Regions from separate parts of the Homo sapiens genome. Here region 2 is linked to region 1. Evidence: fine-mapped expression QTL. Tissue or cell type: whole blood. Region 1 holds a variant in brackets; the other region holds the start of a gene. All regions are shown on one strand. Distances are between the middles of the regions.

Evidence for each region. PIP is the estimated chance that this variant, and not a neighbour inherited with it, causes the effect.
Region 2: it holds the start of NOCT, and the variant in region 1 is fine-mapped to the expression of NOCT in whole blood (INTERVAL, PIP above 0.99).

What each region holds. Positions count from the first base shown.
Region 1 is chr4:138,926,518-138,936,319 of GRCh38, reverse strand. The region is part of intron 2 of LOC105377448 (a long non-coding RNA gene); the gene reads left to right. Among named protein-coding and RNA genes, the nearest start is that of NOCT, 84 kb to the left of the region's middle. RefSeq lists an enhancer at 2,804-3,358. The variant A/G (reference allele first, on the strand shown) is at 4,878.
Region 2 is chr4:139,010,321-139,020,122 of GRCh38, reverse strand. It overlaps NOCT (nocturnin), which reads right to left and starts at 4,342. Exons shown (of 3, transcript NM_012118.4): 1 at 3,952-4,342. The coding sequence starts at 4,141. It overlaps LOC105377448 (a long non-coding RNA gene), which reads left to right and starts at 7,477. Exons shown (of 3, transcript NR_133945.1): 1 at 7,477-7,528. RefSeq lists a silencer at 3,903-4,202 and enhancers at 4,343-4,692, 4,725-5,646, 4,783-5,982.

The sequences.
Region 1 (9,802 bases):
TTTTTCTTCTCAAATGACAACTTTACATATATGGAGAGTCCTCAAAGCAGGAGAGAGATATAAAAAAGAAATTGAATTCATTCATTCAACAAGCTTCTAGAGGGCACTTACTATCTCTTAATAAGAACTTCTCCCATTACAAAAGTAGCACACATACATTGTAAGAATTTGGAAAATACAGATGGGCACACAGAAGAGTATACACCCCACCCATAATTCCATCCTCCAGAGATTTCAACATTTATGTTTTGGTGACTTATTAATGCTTGATTGATATATTTCTAGTTCTGATCTCTATCTGTCTATTTATCTAAGCTATAACTTGCAATCATGTTGTGCATATGCATATTATAAACTCCTTGTCTCCTATTTTTCTTTGTAATTAAATATTCTTCTGCAACACTATTTTTAATGGCTGCAAGGTGTTTTGTTATTCGGAAAATTTAAAAAACTAAGTTCCAATGGTTAAACAATCTTGTAGCTATCACTTTTGTATATTTATGATTAGTTTTTAGGATACAAATTATAAGTGGAATTTTTAGGTTAAAGGATGAGAACGTGGTTGCTCTATGTTGCAGATTACCTTCTTATCTTTTAAAGGTCAATTTGCCTTTATTTCTACTAGCAGTGCACAAACATTCCTGGATCTTCTCACTGTTGCCTTAGAAATCTTTTTATAGTGACTTCTGATGCTTTCCTTGTCTGCTTAGTAAAATGCAAACAGGTTTGTTTAACATCAGCCTTAAGATAAATGCCTTAGCACGTTAGTAAAGGAATTTTTATATTAGGTTAAAAGAAGAGCAAATAAACAATAAAAAGTAATAGTATTGCATCTCTGACTCTGCATTTATTCCAACAAGTACAGCTTATTTTTAATTACTGGTGATAAATACTTCATAGTCTACTAATAAACGTCCTGCAGTATATTTTGAAAAAGGCAATAAACGCTTTGTCAGGTGAGAATTCACTATAGTTCTTGGCCTCTAAATCTCTGTTGAAAAGAAGGATAAAACTGCCAGTTTTGCTGGTAAGAATTATTGGAAAGACTGATAAGCAAGTAAGACTTAGCAAGGTTCTGAAATAATTACTGCCATCAGGACAAAATTGGGAAAATAAACCTGCACATTCATGTAGTACTAATATTAGGTCAAGTCAGTGCTTTTTCTTTTTAAACATCAAACATAGTGCTTGGGAGATAAATGAAAAAGTTAAGAATAAATTAGTTTAGGAAGAAACCCCTGGTTGGGGTTGAATTTGCTGAATAGATTAGGGATGAACTTGTATTTTCTCTGTGGTGGGGGGAATTTGAAATACTGTTTTTAGTATAGTTAGCAAAATTGGGGCAAAAAGATTCAACTCAGAAAATATGCAGTTCTAAGTTATGATCCTTATTGGTGCTGACTTTAGAGATACTACTGGGAATCAGGAAGAAATTACTTTTTATTCATTTTGTGAAACGTTCTTACTCTTCTTATTTTCCTAGCACATATTAAAACTTTCAAAATAGAAATAGATTTTTTTTCTGATTTAGAAAAAGGTTATACACTCATTGTAAAAAAAATTACATAGCACAGAAAAGTATAAAGAAAGTAAAAATCACTAAAAGTAACACTACCCAGCAATAACTACTATCAATATTTGAGGAACATCTTTTCAGACAGCTGACACTGTTCTCTCAACAGATGCAGAATTTTATGCAAACGTGTTTGTCTTACATATATTGTTCAGTAACCTCTTTTCTTTTTTTCAGAAATATATGTTGTGGCCACATTTTGAGGTCAATATGTATAGATTACGGCATTAACCTTTTCTGTTTTTGAGATGGAGTCTCACTTTGTCACCCAGGCTGGAGTGCAGTGGTGCAAACATGGCTCACTGGAGCCTGGACCTCCCGGGGTCAAGCCATCTTCCCTTCTCATCCCCTCAAGTAACTGGGACCACAGGCGTGTGCCACCTTGCCTGGCTGTTTTCTGTTTTTTTGTAGAGATAGTTTTACCATGTTGCCCAGGCTGGTCTTGAATTCCTGAGCTCAAGAGATCTGCCTGCTTTGACCTCCCAAAGTGCTGAGATTACGAGCTTGGGGCATGCCCCTGGCCAACATCATCATTTTTAATGGTCACTTAATATTCATTGTACAGATGTGCAGTAAATGTTTTTTTCTTTTTTTTTTTTTTTGAGATGGAGTCTCGCTCTGTCGCCCAGGCTGGAGTGCAGTGGTGCGATCTCGGCTCACTGCGACCTCTGCCTCCTGGGTTCCAGCAATTCTCCTGCCTCAGCCTCCCAAGTAGCTGGGACTACAGGTGCCCACCACCACGCCCGGCTAATTTTTTGTATTTTTAGTAGAGACGGGGTTTCACCATGTTAGCCAGGATGGTCTTGATCTCCTGACCTCGTGATCTGCCCATCTTGGCCTCCCAAAGTGCTGGGATTACAGGCATGAGCCACCGTGCCCGGTCAATGTGCAGTAAATGATTTTATCTTAATGTGATTTTTTAAAACAAATTATCAGAAAGACATGCTCTGAAATGTTTTTTTCCTAAACATTGCAGAAGGCATGAAGTGAAAAGTCATCTCATTTATTCATTCTTGTCCCCAATTAATTCTACCTCCCAAAGGTAACTTTATGATCTCCCTAGGATGAGACAGGACTAGTAAAAAAAAAAAAATGTACACACATATTTTCCCAGATGCGATCATTTTATCTTCTATAATTTGCTTTAAAAAGTTTTACACTGTATTGTGTACATTTTCCAGGTCAGTGGATATAAAGTGAATTTCATGCGCATCCGTGTGAAGAGACCACCAAACAGGCTTTGTGTGAGCAATAAAGCTGTTTATTTCACCTGGGTGCAGGTGGGCTGAGTCCGAAAAGAGAGTCAGCGAAGGGAGATGGGGTGGGGCTGTTTTATAGGATTTGGGTAGGTAAAGGAAAAAGGGGGGTTGTTCTCTGGTGGGCAGGAGTGGGGGGTCACAAGGAACTCAGTGGGGGAGCTTTTGAGCCAGGATGAGCCAGGAGAAGGAATTTCACAAGACAATGTCATCAGTTAAAGCAGGAACAGGCCATTTTCACTTCTTTTGTGGTGGAATGTCATCAGTTAAGGCAGGAACTGGTCATCTGGATGTGTACGTGCAGGTCACAGGGGATATGATGGCTTAGCTTGGGCTCAGAGGCCTGACATTCCTGTCTTCTTATATTAATAAGAAAAATAAAATGAAATAGTGGTAAAGTGTTTGGACAGCGAAAATTTTGGGGGATGGTATGGAGAGATAATGGGCGATGTTTCTCAGGGCTACTTCGAGCAGGATTAGGGGTGGCGTGGGAACCTAGAGTGGGAGAGATTAAGCTGAAGGGAGATCTTGTGGTAAGGGGTGATATTGTGGGGTTGTTAGAAGAAACACTTGTCATGTAGAATTATTGGTGATGGCCTGGATACGGTTTTGTATGAATTGAAAAAGTAAATGGAATAAGAGGAGAAAAGCAGGTATTAAAGGACTAAGAATTGGGAGGACCTAGGACATATAATTAGAGTGCCTTAGGAGATTCATCATAGTCCTGCCAGCAAAAATTATTTATTTACTTCAAGAGTTAAGAGCGGTGGTTTGGGGATAACACCAGGAGATATCAGCTGTGCTGGCTTGGAGAAACAGTGTAAACTGGCAGTGTAAACAAGAGCAGGGCATGTATGAGTAGTTGAGAACGGTGAATAGAAGTAGGACTAGACAGAAGACAGTAGGGATGACAAGTTTTTGGGGCACAGTCCAAGTTGGTCTAGTGTCTGGAATGAGACTGGGGCCTAATAAAAAGGAGCTCAAGTGGGCTGTACCTTGTAGCATTCCGAGGACAGGCCTTAATTCTGAGAAGCGAAAGTGGTAAAAGTATTGTCCAGTCCTTTTTAAGTTGGTGGCTGAGCTTGGTGAGGTGTGTTTTTAAAAGACCATTAGTCTGTTCTACTTTTCCTGAAGACTGAGGACTGTAAGGGATATAAAGGTTTCACTGAATACTAACACCTGAAAAACTGCTTGGCTGATTTGACTAATAAAGGCTGATCTGTTATCAGACTGTATAGAGGTGGGAAGGCTAAACTGAGGAATTATGTCTGACAGAAGGGAAGAAATGACTGTGGTGGCCTTCTCAGACCCTGTAGGAAAGGACTCTACCTATCCAGTGTAAGTGTCTACCTAGACTAAGAGGTATTTTAGTTATCTGACTCGGGGCATGTTGAGTAAAGCTAATTTGCCAGTCCTGGGTGGGGGCAAATCCTCGAGCTTGAAGTGTAGGGAAGGGAGGGGGGCCTGAATAATCCTTGAGGAGTAGTAGAATAGCAGATGGAACACTGAGAAGTTATTTCCTTGAGGATAGATTTCCACGATGGAAAGGAAATGAGAGGTTTTAAGAGGCGGGCTAGTGACTTGTACTATAGCATAGCCTGCCTTTGCTGGTGTGTGGCGATTAGGCCTGGTGGAACTGCCATCAATAAACTAAGTGCGATCAGGGTGAGAAACAGGGAAGAAGGAAATGCGGGGAAATGGGGTGAACGTCAGGTGGATCAGAGAGATGCAGTCATGAGGGCCAGGTGTGGTATCAGGAATAATGTGGGAGGCCGGATTGAAGTCCCGGCCAGGAACAATGGTAATTGTGGAACTTAACAAAGAGTGAGTACAGCTGAAGGAGCTGGGGAGCAGAAAGTATATGCGTCAGGTATGAGGAAGAAAATAGATTTTGGAAGTTATGAGAAATGTAGAGAGTAAGTTGAGCATAGTTTGTGATTTTGAGGGCCTCTAAAAGTATTAGGGCGGCAGCAGCCGCTGCACTGAGATATGATGGCTAGGCTAAAACAGTAAGGTCAAGTTGTTTGGACAGAAAGGCTACAGGGTGC[A/G]GTCCTGGCTCTTGTGTAAGAATTCTGACCGCACTAACTGTGCCTAGGAAGGAAAGGAGTTGTTGTTTTGTAAGGGATTGAGGTTTGGGCGATTAGTCGGACACGATCAGCAGGCAGAGCACATGTGTTTTTATGAGAATTATGCCGAGATAGGTAACAGATGAGGATGAAATTTGGGCTTGACTGAAGTAATGGGGGCTGTCTGTGAAGCCTTGCGGCAGTACAGCCCAGGTAATTTGCTGAGCCTAATGGGCGTCAGGGTCAGTCCAAGTGAAAGCAAAGAGAGGCTGGGATAAAGGGTGCAGAGGAATAGTAAAGAAAGCATATTTGAGATCCAGAACAGAATAATGGGTTGTAGAGGGAGGTATTGAGGATAGGAGAGTATATGGGTTTGGCACCACGGGGTGGATAGGCAAAACAATTTGGTTGATAAGGCGCAGATCCTGAAGTAACCTGTAAGTCTTGTCTGGTTCTAGGACAGGTAAAATGGGGGAATTGTAAGGAGAGTTTATAGGCTTTAAAAGGCCATGCTGTAGCAGGTGATTGATAATAGGCTTTAATCCTTTTAAAGCATGCTGTGGGATGGGATATTGGCATTGAGCGGGGTAGGGGTGATTAGGTTTTAATGAGATGGTAAGGGGTGCATGATGGGTCACCAAGGAGGGAGTAGAGGTATCTTATACTTGTGGGTTAAAGTTGGGGGATACAAGAGGAGGACGCAAAGGAGGCTTTGGATTGGGAAGAAGGGCGGCAATGAGATGCAGCTGTAGTCCAGGAATAGTCAGGGAAGCAGATAATTTAGTTAAAGTGTCTCGGCCTAATAAGGGAACTGGGCAGGTGGGGATAACTAAAAAGGAGTGCTTAAAAGAGTGTTGTCTAAGTTGGCACCAGAGTTGGGGAGTTTTAAGAGGTTTAGAAGCCTGGCTGTCAATACCCACAACAGTTATGGAGGCAAGGGAAACCGGCCCTTGAAAATAAGGTAATGTGGAGTGAGTAGCCTCCGTATTAAGAAGGGGAAGTACTTACCCTCCACTGTGAGAGTTACCCAAAGCTCGGCGTCCGTGATGATCTAGGGGGCTTCTGAGGTGATCAGGCAGCGTCAGTCTTCAGCTGCTAAGCCAAGAAGATCTGGGAAGGAGTCAGAGAGCCTTGGGCCAGAGTTCCAGGGGCTCTGGGAGTGGCTGCCAGGTGAGTTGGACAGTCCAATTTCCAGTGGGGTCCTGCACAGATGGGAAGCGGCTTAGGAGGAATCCTGGGCTGCAGGCATTCCTTGGCCTGGTGGCCAGATTTCTGGCACTTGTAGCAAGCTACTGGGGGAGGAGGTTCTGGAGGAACGCCTGGCTGCTGCGGTTCAGGTGTTTGGAAGTTCTTGTGTGCTGGAGATGTGGCTGGGGTTTGTCTCACAGTGGAGGCAAGGAATTGCAACTGTTTTCTATTATTGTACACCTTGAAGGTGAGGCTAATTAAATCCTGTTGTGGGGTTTGAGGGCCGGAATTTAATTTTTGGAGTTTTATTTAATGTCAGGAGCAGATTGGGTAATAAAACGTATTTTGAGAATAAGACGGCCTTTTGACCTTTTAGGGTCTAGGGCTGTAAACTGTCTCAGGGTTGTTGCCAAAGGAGTCATGAACTGGGCTGGATTTTTATATTTGATGAAAAAGAGCCTAAACGCTATCTGATTTGGGATAAAGAAAAAGGAGCATTAACCTTGACTATGCCTTTAGCTCCAGCCACCTTTTTAAGAGTAAATTGCTGGGCAGGTCGGGGGGTGGCTAGTCAAATGAAACTGTAAGCCGGACCGGGTATGAGGAGGGGAGGTGATAAAAGGATTATAGGGTGGAGGAGCAGAGGCTGAGGAAGAATTGGGACCTAGCTCCGCCTGGCGAGGAGCAGCCTGGGGAGGAGGGGAGGTCAGATGGGTCTGTAGAAAAGGAAGATTAGAAAGACTCAGCGATGCTTGGGGTTGGGACTGAGGGGGGCAGGTGGGAGGGAAAGAAGGAAGATTTGGGACGAGTTGCATTGGGCACAGAGACTAGGAAGGGACCGATGTGTAAAAGAATGCCTGGACGTCAGGCACCTCAGACTGTTTGCCTACTTTACGATAAGAATTATTTAGATCTTGCAGGATGGAAAAATTCAAAGTGCCGTTTTCTGGCTATTTGGAACTACTGTCGAGTTTGTATTGGGGTCAAGTGGCAATGCAGAAGAAAATAAGATGCTTAGATTTTAGGTCAAGTGAGAGTTGAAGCGGTTTTAAGTTCTTAAGAACACAGGCTAAGGGAAAAGAAGGAGGAATGGAGGGTGGAAGGTTGCCCATAGTGAAGGAGGCAAGCCCAGAGAAAAGAGAGTAGAGACACGGGGGGAAGGGGTTCAGGGGTTCTTACCCTCCAGAAAAGTGGGAAAGGGGTCGGGGCACAGAAATACGAGGTCAGGGCATGGACATAAGGGATTGGGGTGCAGAGAATATAAGAGGTTGGGGTGCGGAAATAAGGGATCAGGGCAAAGAGATATAAGGGGTCGGGGCATGGAAATAAGGGATTGGGGCACAGAGATAAGAGGTCGGGGTGCAGAAATAAGGGATTGGGACACAGAGATATGAGGTTGGGGTACTTGCCCCTCCCCCAGAAAAGCAGGACTTGCTGCTAAGGGTGAAGGAGAAGGGGTTGGGGGTTTCTTGCCCCCCCAGAAAGGTGGAGAAGGGGTAGAGACACGGAGAGAAGGGGTTGGGGTACTTGCCCCTTCCCCAGAAAAGCGGGACTTGCCGCTAAGGGTGAAGGACCAAGGCAGGTGTCCCTGCGTGGTCTGACACCTCTGAAACCTGGGTGAATAATCAGAGAGGCGTCCCTGCAATGATTAAACACCAAGGGAAGGCTGCCTTCCCTAGTCCGTGACCGGCACCGGAGTTTTGGGTCCACAGATAAAACCTGTCTCCTTTGTCTCTGCCAGAAAATGAAAGGAATTGAAATTAAGAGAAGGGAGAGATTGAAGAGTGGAAAGGAGAAAGTGGTTGAGGGATAGTGAGAGAGGTTGGAGAAGAGAGTAAGAAGAGGCCGCTTACCTGATTTAAAATTGGTGAGATGTTTCTTGGGCTGGTTGGTCTGAGGACCTGAGGTCGTAGGTGGATCTTTCTCACCAAGCAAAGAACAGGAGGACAGAGGATTGATCTCCCAAGGGAGGTCCCCCGATCCGAGTCACGGCACCAAATTTCATGCACGTCTGTGTGAAAAGACCACCAAGCAGGATTTGTGTGAGCAATAAAGCTGTTTACTTCACCTGGGTGCAGGTGGGCTGAGTCCGAAAAGAGAGTCAGTGAAGGGAGATAGGGGTGGGGCCGTTTTATAGGATTTGGGTAGGTAAAGGAAAAAGGGGGGTTCTCTGGCGGGCAGGAGTGGGGGGTCACAAGGTACTCAGTGGGGGAGCTTTTGAGCCAGGATGAGCCAGGAGAAGGAATTTCACAAGACAATGTCATCAGTTAAAGCAGGAACAGGCCATTTTCACTTCTTTTGTGGTGGAATGTCATCAGTTAAGGCAGGAACTGGTCATCTGGATGTGTACGTGCAGGTCACAGGGGATATGATGGCTTAGCTTGGGCTCAGAGGCCTGACAGTGATCTAATTCTTTTTTAACAACTGCAAACATAGATGTACTGTGATTGATTTAACGTATACCCTATTGTCTTAGTCTGTTTGGGCTGCTATAATAAAATATTATAAACTGGATAGTCTATAAACAATATAAATGTATTTATTTATTTCCCACACTTCTGGAGGCTGGGAAGTCCAAGATCAAGACACTCACAAATTTGGTATCTGGTGAGGACCCACTTTCTGGTTTGCGGATGATATCTTCTCATTGTGTCCTCACATGGTGGAAGAAGTGAGGGGTCTCTCTCAGGCCTTTTTTATAAGGGCACTAAGCCCATTCACAAGGGCTCTATCCTCATAGTCTGATCACCTCCCAAAGGCTCCACCTCCTAATATCATCACCTTGGGGGTCAGAATTTCAACATGAATGCTGAGAGGAAACAAACATTCAGACCACAGCACCTATGGATCAACATTGAGGTTATTTCAATTTTTAGATATGCTAAACAATGCTATAGTGAACAGCCTTGCATATTCATCTTTATAAATGTCCCTATGTCTCTTTAGCAGTTTCCTGGCAATGTTATTGCTGAGTCATTTCATATTTTGATCAGTGTAGTCAAGCTCTTTTCCAGTTGCTTTCCACTTTAGGTTTGTACTGGGTGCTGATATTTTCATTTTCATCTTTTCTAAACTTCTGAGTAGAAAATTTTTGATCACTGTTGTTTTTATTTGTATTTCTTTAATTATTAGCAAAGTTAAAAACATTTTATAATGTTTAATGTTGGTCATTTGAAGTTCTCTTGTAATGTGCGTATTAGTGCCCTAAACCTGTTTTTTATTGGAACGTTTATCTTTTTCTTATTGTTTTGTAAGAGTTTTTAAAATGACCAATAAACACTGTACTTTTTCCAGTCTATGTAAAAATCTGACTTAATATGACACACTCTACCAACAAATCACTACCTTTGGCTTAACTGATGAGAAAGGAAAATGAACTATGGGTTGCCCCATCTTTCCCTTTCCTTCTATGTCCTTTTCAGTGTGGTTGGCTAATATAGCGATGTAACATGAGTGAGAAAGAATATGGTAGGGTTCCTTGGTTGTTCTTTTTGCTTAAACAGTATTGATTCTTTCAAGCTAAACTGGTTCAAAGGGAAAGCACGGCCTCTTGGCTGGGTTGTGGGGTAGGGGGTCACCTATCACTGAGTTACACTGAACTTTCATGCATCATGGGTCCACCAGAATTCTCTGCATGGGACATCACAGGTGGTATATGTGAATGGGAGGCAAGGAATGGTGTTACTGCGCATGCACACATATTGTATCTCCTCTGCTCA
Region 2 (9,802 bases), 84 kb before region 1:
ATTGAATGCTAACAGAAAAATCATACATTAGTTTTCCCACAAGGAAAGCAATTTATTCCATAGCAGCTTGATAATGACAAGCTTTCCCGTTTCTTCTCTCTCATAAGCAGTTTACTCACATAGTTAAAGGACATATTAAATAAAGCTGCCTTCTCAAATGAGCTGGTGGCATTTGCCTATAAATTGTACCATGAAAAAAAGCAAATGTTCTAATGGTAGAGAACAGTAGTTCAGCCAGCTCTTCATTCTCTGAGGAGGAGGGATGTGGAGGATAGCATTTATAAATCCACAGATGACTTCCAACTGCGTTTCATCCAGTACAGTAACTGTGGCAACTGCTACTTCTTAGGGGGGCTGCTATCCTTGAGAAAAGAAAGCCAAACACCGAGATCATCCCTAGGGTCACCTTTTAATTCTAACAACCTGGAATCTGATAACTCCAAAGGGACTGTACTTATCTTCCCAATAACTACCAATTGCCAAGGGGCATAAGTTATGCAGGAACTGATTAGCAAATGTGGACAGCTGTCGGGACTCACTACTCCCCACCACAAGGCTCAGGAGTGGAGAGGAGCTTTTGGCCCCTTCAATGTCTCTCTCACATATGGGTGCCAGATGTCCAAATTTGAGGGCATAGAAGAACAATCTGGAGTTATTCTTTTTGTCATTTCATTTGGTTATGTGGAATCCAGGGCCCATCATGAATGACTCAGACTTAATAGGTCTACAGTAGGATCCAAGAATCTGCATTTTAAAAAAGCACTTCATAGGCTGGGCGCAGTGGCTCACACCTGTAATCCCAGCACTTTGGAAGGCCAAAGCAGGTGGATCACCAGAGCTGGGGAGTTTGAGACGAGCCCGGGCAACACGTTGAAATCCTGTCTCTACTAAATACAAAAATTAGCCCGGCACAGTGGCGTGTGCCTGTAGTCACAGCTGCTCAGGAGGCTGAGACAGGAGAACTGCTTGAGCCTGGGAGGTGGAGGTTGCAGTGAGCAGAGGTGGCGCCACTACACTCCATCCTGGGCAACAGTGCGAGAGAACCTTGTCTCAAAAAAAATAAAAATAAAAATTAAAATTAAAAAGCACTTAGTGCTGGGTCTGAGGCTCTTTGGAAAACAATGTCCATTTTTGCAAAGTGCCTCTTCTCTCACCCTTCCTCATCTGTGTGTGTCTCATGCCTTTCTGCATTTACTCCTGCTTTTTCCAAACAAAACGCTTTATAGTAATCTCTTCCAATCCTAACCATGCTTCAAGAGCCAGCTGAAATGCCACCCATTTCTAGAAGCCCAAAAGGGACTTCCTGCTTTCCTGCACCCTTGTGCCATTTCCAAGTCAAGAGAATAAAAGGTGTTTCATTTCATTAAACAGCCATTTCATTGTGCAAATCTCATCTCTTACTGGGCAGTAAACTCCTTAGGGACTGACTAAAGCTCATGTTTTTAACTCCCATAATAAAGCACCTACATTGTGTGAGACATTCTGTAAAGATCTGGAATGAGTGAACAAGCAATGAATGAATCAATGCAGGCATGTTTCTTCCAACAAGCTGCTGAAGCTAAAAATGCATGAACAGGAAAATTGTCTAGACTTTATAGTAACTGCCTACAAAAGTTTAAGTACCATAAAGTCCTTCAATTTCCTTATCTGTAAAACTAGGGGGTTTCAGGGGATTTCTTAAAAGAAGTTCATTAAACACTTTCTTGGGTCAAAAGCCCAACATTCCAATCTGACCTGATATTATTACTCAGATAACAGTAATTACTCAGATAACACAGCCATCTATGTTTTACACAAGCTAACAGTATTCCCATGAGGAGGTACCTACTAACCCTGCCTCTGAGACTTTGAGGGAATTTAAGATATAAGCTGGTACAGAAGACATCACCTGGTTTTCTTTTACTTTTCCTACCTCAAACCTCTAACAATGTTGTTCTTAAAATTTCCAGCAAGAAAAAAGTTATCAGGCAATATACTCATTCTGGCAGTTATTTCACAATGTACCACATTCCTACGAAATTGGGGGTGGGGGTGGGGAATCTAACTGTCAAGTTCACTCTAAGGAACAATATAGTTCAGAATCTCCAGCAACCAATTCAACATCCTAATTTTAAAATGACTAAGTTGGGCATGGTGGCTTCCACCTGCAAATCTCAACTGCTCCAGAGTCTGAGGATAACTCGAGGCCAGGAGTTTGATACTAGATTGGGAAATACCTAAATATCTGCCAACAATGCGAATAGTTTAAAGTCTTGGCTTCAATCACATTCCAGATGACCATTTTTAAAATATATACATTTTTTAAAATTTTTATTAATTTTGTTTTGAGACGGAGTTTTACTCTTGTCACCCAGGCTGGAGTGCAATGGTGCGATCTCGGCTCACTGCAACACTCCGCCTCCCAGGTTCAAGTGATTCTCCTGCCTCAGCCTCCAGAGTAGCTGGGATTACAGGCGAGTGCCACCACGCCCAAGCCCATTGGCCAGGATGGTCACGAACTCCTGACCTCGGGTGATCTACCCGCCTCCGCCTCCCACAGTGCTGGATTACAGGCGTGAGCCACCGCGCCCGGCCTATTTTTTTAAATTTTATAGGCCGGGGGGGCGGTGGCTCACGCCTGTAATCCCAGCACTTTGGGAGGCCAAAGCGGGAGGTTCACCTGAGCTAGGGAGTTCGAGGCCAGCCTGACCAACATGGAGAAACCCCATCTCTACTAAAAATACAAAAATCAGCCTGGCGCGGTGGCGCATGCCTGTAATCCCAGCTTCTCGGGAGGTTGAGGCAGGAGAATCGCTTGAACCCGGGAGGCAGAGGTTGCGGTGAGCCGAGATCGCGCCATTGCACTCCAGCCTGGGAAATAAGAGCAAAACTCCGTCTCAAAAAAAAAAAAAAAAAAAGTTATGTATTGCCTAGTTTTGAAAGAAAAAATTTATCAATTTTTAAAGTATAATTAATTTGTATGTAATTTGTGGCCATGGTAATGTGTGCCCAGGCAGAAACAGAGGTAGCAAAAAAGGAAAACTCAGGGTAGTTATTATGATGTATGAAAACAGCTCTTGGTGAAACTAAGGCCTCACTTTTACAAGATCTTAGATACACAGGACAAAAAATGATGTTAACTATAAAGAGTGGAAGCCTCCAAAAAAAAAAAATCCAAAGAAACGTAAAATGGCCGAGCGCGGTGGCTCACGCCTGTGATCCCAGCACTCTGGGAGGCTGAGGCGGGTGGATCACGAGGTCAGGAGTTCAAGACCAGCCTGGCCAAAATGGTGAAACCCCCGTCTCTACTAAATATACAAAAGTTAGCTAGGCGTGGTGACTGGCGCCTGTAATCCCAGCTACTCGGGAGGCTGAGGCAGGAGAATCGCTTGAACCCGGGAGCGGGAGGTTGCGGTAAGCCGATATCGTGCCACTGGACTCCAGCCTGGGTGACACAGTGAGACTCCATCTCAAAAAAAAAAAAAAAAAAAAAAAAAAAAAACAACGTAAAACGAATCAATGTGTTATTATCACGACTTAAAAAAAAAACTTAATATCTAGACCATGAAAGCTATATAAGCAAATAAGCATCATTTAGATTTTTTTTTCCATAAAAATTTCCGTTAAGTCGTGCAATAAAAAATGTAACCAACATAGTAACTCGCGGCCTCGGAAGGGGGAAATTTAACGGTCAAGAACAAGAAATTCTGAAAGCATGGCCTCTAAGGGTCAAGCGGGAACCTGAATACAGTCTCCCAGTTCTTACTAGCTTTGATGCAAGCCCCAGGCAAGTCGGGGAACAGGGAAAGAGGAAAAAGGGAACGCAGAAGGTTGCTCCGGTAAAGGACCCACTTTCAGGCCAGACTCCACGACCGGCAGCCCCGGGCTTCTCATTCATTCCGCGCGGTCTCCAGGTGGCGGCCGCGCGTTGGCGGCCGTGGCGTTCTCCGCCCGGAACTGGGGTGCACTCACCTGTTCGGGAACACGACCTCGCGGCGCCCGAGGCCGCCGAGGCCGCCGCCAGCAGCCGGGGGGATGCGGGCCTGGGAACAGCAGCCGGCGGGGACAACGGGCGGCGCAGCCCTGGGGCGGGCAGGCGGCGCAGGCCGGGCGCGTCCCTCTGCAGCAGGGCCGAGCAGAGCCGCCGCGGACTATGAAACATGCCGGGCGCCGCCGCCACCACGGCCCCTCGCGCGCCCGAGGAGCGGAGCCCGGCTGGGGCCGAGGGCACCGAGTCGAGCCGACTGTCCGGGCAGTGTGGGCGGATGCTCCCAGGCTCCTTCTCGCGCGGCGCAGGTTCTGGGGAAATCCCGGGCAGCAGAGCCGGAGAGGGAGGTGCAACACCGCTGCGTCGGCACCGTCTGCTGTGAGACCTGGCGAGACCTGCAGGGCGCCCGGCGAGCGCTGCGCGCTGACAAAGCGGGCGCTACCAAGCGGGAGCTGGAGGGGAATCCGCGGGACCCGGCCACTGCGCGGCCACGCCAGGCTCCCTCGACCCGGCGTAATCCTGTTTTAAAAGGAAGCGGGGCTTAGGCTGATTTATAGATAGAATCCGCAGGCGGTCTAAAATAAGAGGTATCCGTTGGAGCTGTTCTGAAGAAAAAAGCGTCCCCTTCCGCTGGCCAGCATGGAAGCGCCCACAGGCTGGGAATCCCGAGACAGTTCCAGGGCTGTGGCCCAGGGGACACGTGTCTGTCAGAGTGGCAGACGGCCTACGTGTGTGCCTGCGCGGGTCTGTGTGGATACAGCAAAAGGCGTCCGCCTCCGACCCCCTCGGCAGTGTGTGATGCGTTAAACGATATTAAGCACAATAAAGCACCGCCTGTGGGCGAGGCGACGATGATTAAAACAGCGTTCTTTTCCTCAAAAGTGTTATACTTAGGCAAAGGGAGCAGAAGGTGGCAAGGGAAGTCAGACCAGAAAGCTCTACAAGGTAGAATGAGATTATTGCCACAAGATGCCAAAGATTGGCTATAGAGATGACAACAGGCCCGGGCTCTCTAGAAGGTTCATTAGAAGGATTGGCATTTGAGTTGGCCTATGACGTGGAGGTCTAGAATTTACCCACGTGAAACTTTGGAGGGGGTGGTGGTGAGTTATAAATGAAAAAAGTAAATAAGGGTGTATTTGGGGAAACAACTCTTAGTCATGTAAGATGGAAGCTAAGGAGTAAGAGGACAGATGCGTGGATAGGTTGTAGTGTGGAAGGAAGGGGATTATAGTAGGCTTAATTCGGTGGATAGCTGCGAGCCGTTGACGTTTTGTAAGCTGAGCAAAGACATGGTCAGGGCTGTGCTTTAATTGGAAATCACATGTCTCTGGTTCATGAAAAGGCAGAAAGGAAATCAGCTGAGATAACAGATACTGTAGACCCGCACCAGGTTACTGTTACTGGAAAAGAAAGGATGGAAGAAACATCTCAGACAGGCTGGGCAGGAAATGATGACTAATCAGGAATAGAAATGGGATGAGGGGGAGGGAAAACCCAAGACTGGATTTTTCTCTGAATGATTCATGAGTTAGAAATGTATTCTATTGGTTTTCCCATGATTTTGCTGATTCCCCTGTGTTGTGGAATTGCAAGCTTTTCATCACAAGAATATTCTAAATATTTTTCAGACCTAGGTTACATATCTAACACCTGTGGATAGAGGGTGTGGACAGATCAGCTGGCACAAGTTGATTACAACTTCTGGCAGACAAGCTCCTTGGAAGTCATTAAAGCCTCAGTTTCAGTTTCCTTATCTATAAAACATAGAATCATACCTTAGTCATTAGGTGAAATAAAAAATGATAATAAGCTACTCTGGGCACACTGTCTATCGAGTAGTCCTGCTCCACAAGGAGCAGTACTTGTAAAAAGAATTTTTTTAAAAAGGTGATAATAAAATTAGCCTATGAAAAGTGTTTTGCAAATATAGCAAAATGTTGATTTTGAATCTAGGTAGTGGGTATATATGGGTATAGGGACCATGGGAAAAATGTTCCCTTTGCCCTCTGAAGTTTGCTGAAAAATCAACTCACAAAAGGCAGATTAATGGGAGAAAAGGCATATGCATTTATTAACATGTACATGGGGAGAATCACAGAGTGATTACACACCCCCAACGGGGTTCAGAAGCTTGTCTACCATCCTGGCCAACAGACTTGGGGAGAGGGGAGCAGAGGCATTCTGTTGAGGAGATGACTAGGGAAAGTGAATGGATCAGGGCACAGGGATGAACTTGCACATTATCTTGTGAAAGGGTCTGTTCAGGTGGTTACATTTTTGGTCTTACAAGGAGGGGAAGAAAAAACAATTGTTCCTTTTGGTGGGTTCGGATTGTAGCCAGATAAAGGAACTTCAACTTCATCCTGTGCTTTGGGAGAGATGGTGCTGGGCAGTGAGGTCAGAGAGACCTTGAGGCTTCCATTCAGCCGGTCAAAGCCCCATATTTTGGGCTATCAGTTTCTGAGTCCCGACACAAGTGTTCACTTACAATTATTTTTCCCCCATATATTTGGAGATTTTCATAATAAAATGTTGGGGAAAAGTGCTTTGAAAAATGAAAAAATAACTGTTCAAATATAAACTGTCACTATTTAAAGAGATTCAAAGAGCATGCTATCCTGAAAGTGCATCATATTATTTATTTTTTTTTTATTTATTTATTTGAGATGGAGTCTGTCGCTCTGTTGCCCAGGCTGGAGTACAGTGGCGTCATCTTGGCTCCCTGCAACCTCCGCCTCCCGGGTTCCAGCCATTCTCCTGCCTCAGCCTCTGGAGTAGCTCTGACTACAGGCGCACACCACCACGCCTGGCTAATTTTTGTATTTTTTAGTAGAGACAAGGTTTCATCATATTGTCCAGGCTGGTCTCAAACTCCTGACCTCAGGTGATCCCCTCGCCTCAGTCTCCCAAAGTGCTGGGATTACAGGCATGAGCCACCACGCTCGGCCTGAATCATATTTTTTATAATATATTAAACACTAAGCAATCAGAAAGATAGAAATTAAAACTTATTCCCTTGAAAATTTATTCAGTAAACATTTGTTGAATACACATTATGTGCCAGGCTCTATATTAGAGCATACAAAAATAAATTGAACAAAATCTATTGACAGTTTAGGGGGTAAGACATTGTATAAACAAAAATACTTGTAATTATCTGCTAATAAGTACAGAATCACTTATGGACAAAGTATTGTGGGACCAGAGAAGAGGAAATGTTACTGGAAAGGGGTCCCAATCCAGACCCCAAAAGAGGGTTCTTGAATATTACACAAGAAAGAATTCAGGACGAGCTCATAAAGTGAAACCAAATTTATTAGAGAAGTAAAGAAATAAAAGAATGGTTACTCCATAGGCAGAGCAGCACTGAGGGCTGCTTATGGCTTTTTCTTTTTCTTTTTTTTTTTTTTAATTGAGATGAAGTCTCGCTCTGTCACCCAGGCTGGAGTGCAACGGCACGATCTCGGCTCACTGCAACCTCCACCTCCCAGGTTCAAGTGATTCTCCTGCTGAGCCCACAGAGTAGCTGGGATTACAGATGCGTGCCACCTCACCCAGGTAATTTTTTTATTTCTATTTTTAGTAGAGATGGGGTTTCGCCATGTAGGCCAGGCTGGTCTCAAACTCATGATCTCAAGTGATCCACCTGCCTCCCAAAGTGCTGGGATTACAGGCGTGAGCCACTGCGCCCGGCCTTGTTGGCTATTTTTATGGCTATTTCTTGATTACATGCTAACTAGGGAGAGGGTTATTCGTGAATTTTCCAGGAAAGGGGCAAGGATTTCCCAGGACTGAGGATTTCTCTGCCTTTTAGACTATATAGGGTAACTTCTGGATGTTGCTGTGCCATTTATAAACTGTCACGGCACTGGTGGGAGTGTCTTTTATCATGTTAATGCATTATAATTAGCGTACAATAAACAGTGAGAACAACTAGAGGTCACCTTCATCACCATCTTGGTTGTTGTGGGTTTTGGCTGGTTTCTTTTTTTTTTTGAGATGGAGTCTCGCTCTGTCACCCAGGCTGGAGTGCAATGGCACGGTCTCGGCTCACTGTAACCTCCGCCTCCCGGGTTCCAGCAATTCTCCTGCCTCAGCCTCCCGAGTAGTTAGGCCTACAGGCGCATAGTAGTCCTACGCGCCTGGCTAAATTTGTATTTTTTTTTAGTAGAGACTGGGTTTCTCCATGTTGGCCAGGCTGGTCTTGAACTCCTGGCCTCCCGAGTAGTTAGGACTACAGGCGCGTAGTAGTCCAACACACCTGGCTAAATTTGTATTTTTTTTTAGTAGAGACTGGGTTTCTCCATGTTGGCCAGGCTGGTCTTGAACTCCTGGCCTCGTGATCCGTCTGCTGAGCCAATGCGCCCGGCCGGCTGGTTTCTTTTTCACATCCTGTTTCATCCGCTGAGTCTTTATGATCTATATCTTGTGCTGACCTCCTATCTCATCCTGTGACTAGGAATCCCTAACCTCCTGGCAATGCAGCCCAGTAGGTCTCAGCCTCTATTCAACATAGAGTTGCTCTGGCTCCAACACCTCTGACAGAAATAACTAATTGCCTAGAGAAGTCAGGAGAGGCGTTTTGAACAAAGTGACTACCAAGTGGAAAGGTATCACAGAGGATATCCACAGAGAAGAGAACACTAAGGCGAGGAAAGAAGGCGTGTTCCAGGAACAGCAAGTGCTGCAATCTGATAAGGGTTGAGTGCGGGATGTCCATAGGGAGTGGCCGCAGGTGAGGTGGAAGCTGTGGGCAAGAACCCAAGGTGACGGGTTTGAGAGGAGTTTGGACTTTCATCCTAGAGACCCAGTGAAAGGCTAAACAGACAGTTTGCATTTTTGAAGGATCATTGGATCTTTCTGCCAGCAGTGTTGAAAATGGGTAAGGACGGTGAAGATGAGGAAGAGTATATACAGGTTCAGAATCTCTGGAGATGGGGTAGGGTATGTAATGGTTGTTTGTTTATTTATTTATTTATTTATTTTTGAAGACGGAGTTTCACTCTTGTTGCCCTGGCTGGAGTGCAATGGCATGATCTCGGCTCACTGCAACCTCCGCCTCCCCGGTTCAAGCGATTCTCCTGCCTCAGCCTCCCAAGTAGCTGGGACTACAGACGTGCGCCACCACACCCAGCTAATTTTTTGTATTTTTAGTAGGGACGGGGTTTCACCATCTTGGCCAGGCTGGTCTCGAACTCCTGACCTCATGATCCACCCACCTCAGCCTCCCAAAGTGCTGGGATTACAGGCGTGAGCCACCGTGCCCGGCTGGTTGTTTGTTTATTATTTAATTTTTTGAGAGGTCTCACTTTGTAATCTAGGCTGGAGTGCAGTGGTGCGATGATAGTTCACTGTAACCTCAAACCCCTGGGCTCAAACGATTCTCCTGTCTCAGCCTCCCAAGCAGCTGGGACTACAGGCATGCACCATCATGCCCAAGTGATTTTTAAAATTTTGTGTAGAGATGGGGTCTTGCTGTGTTGCCCAGGCTGGTCTCAAACTCCTGGCCTCCAGCGATCATCCCACCTTTGCCTCCCAAAGCACTAGGATTACAGGTGTGAACCACCACGCTGGGCTTGTATGTTTTCTGGTTAACATTACACAGGTTGTTCTAATGCACATCCCTCTTCCTCCCTCGATGCCACCTCCCAGATAAATAAACTGGGGGCAGGATGGTGGAAAGGAGATGGATTTAAGAACTGCAAAGGAGACAGAAACCATAGGGTTGAGTGACATTGAATCTCGGGGCTGAGGCAGGAGATAATGGAATCTAGTGATGACTTTGGTAACTGATGGATAATGGAACCAAATGGGGATAACAAGTGGAGATGC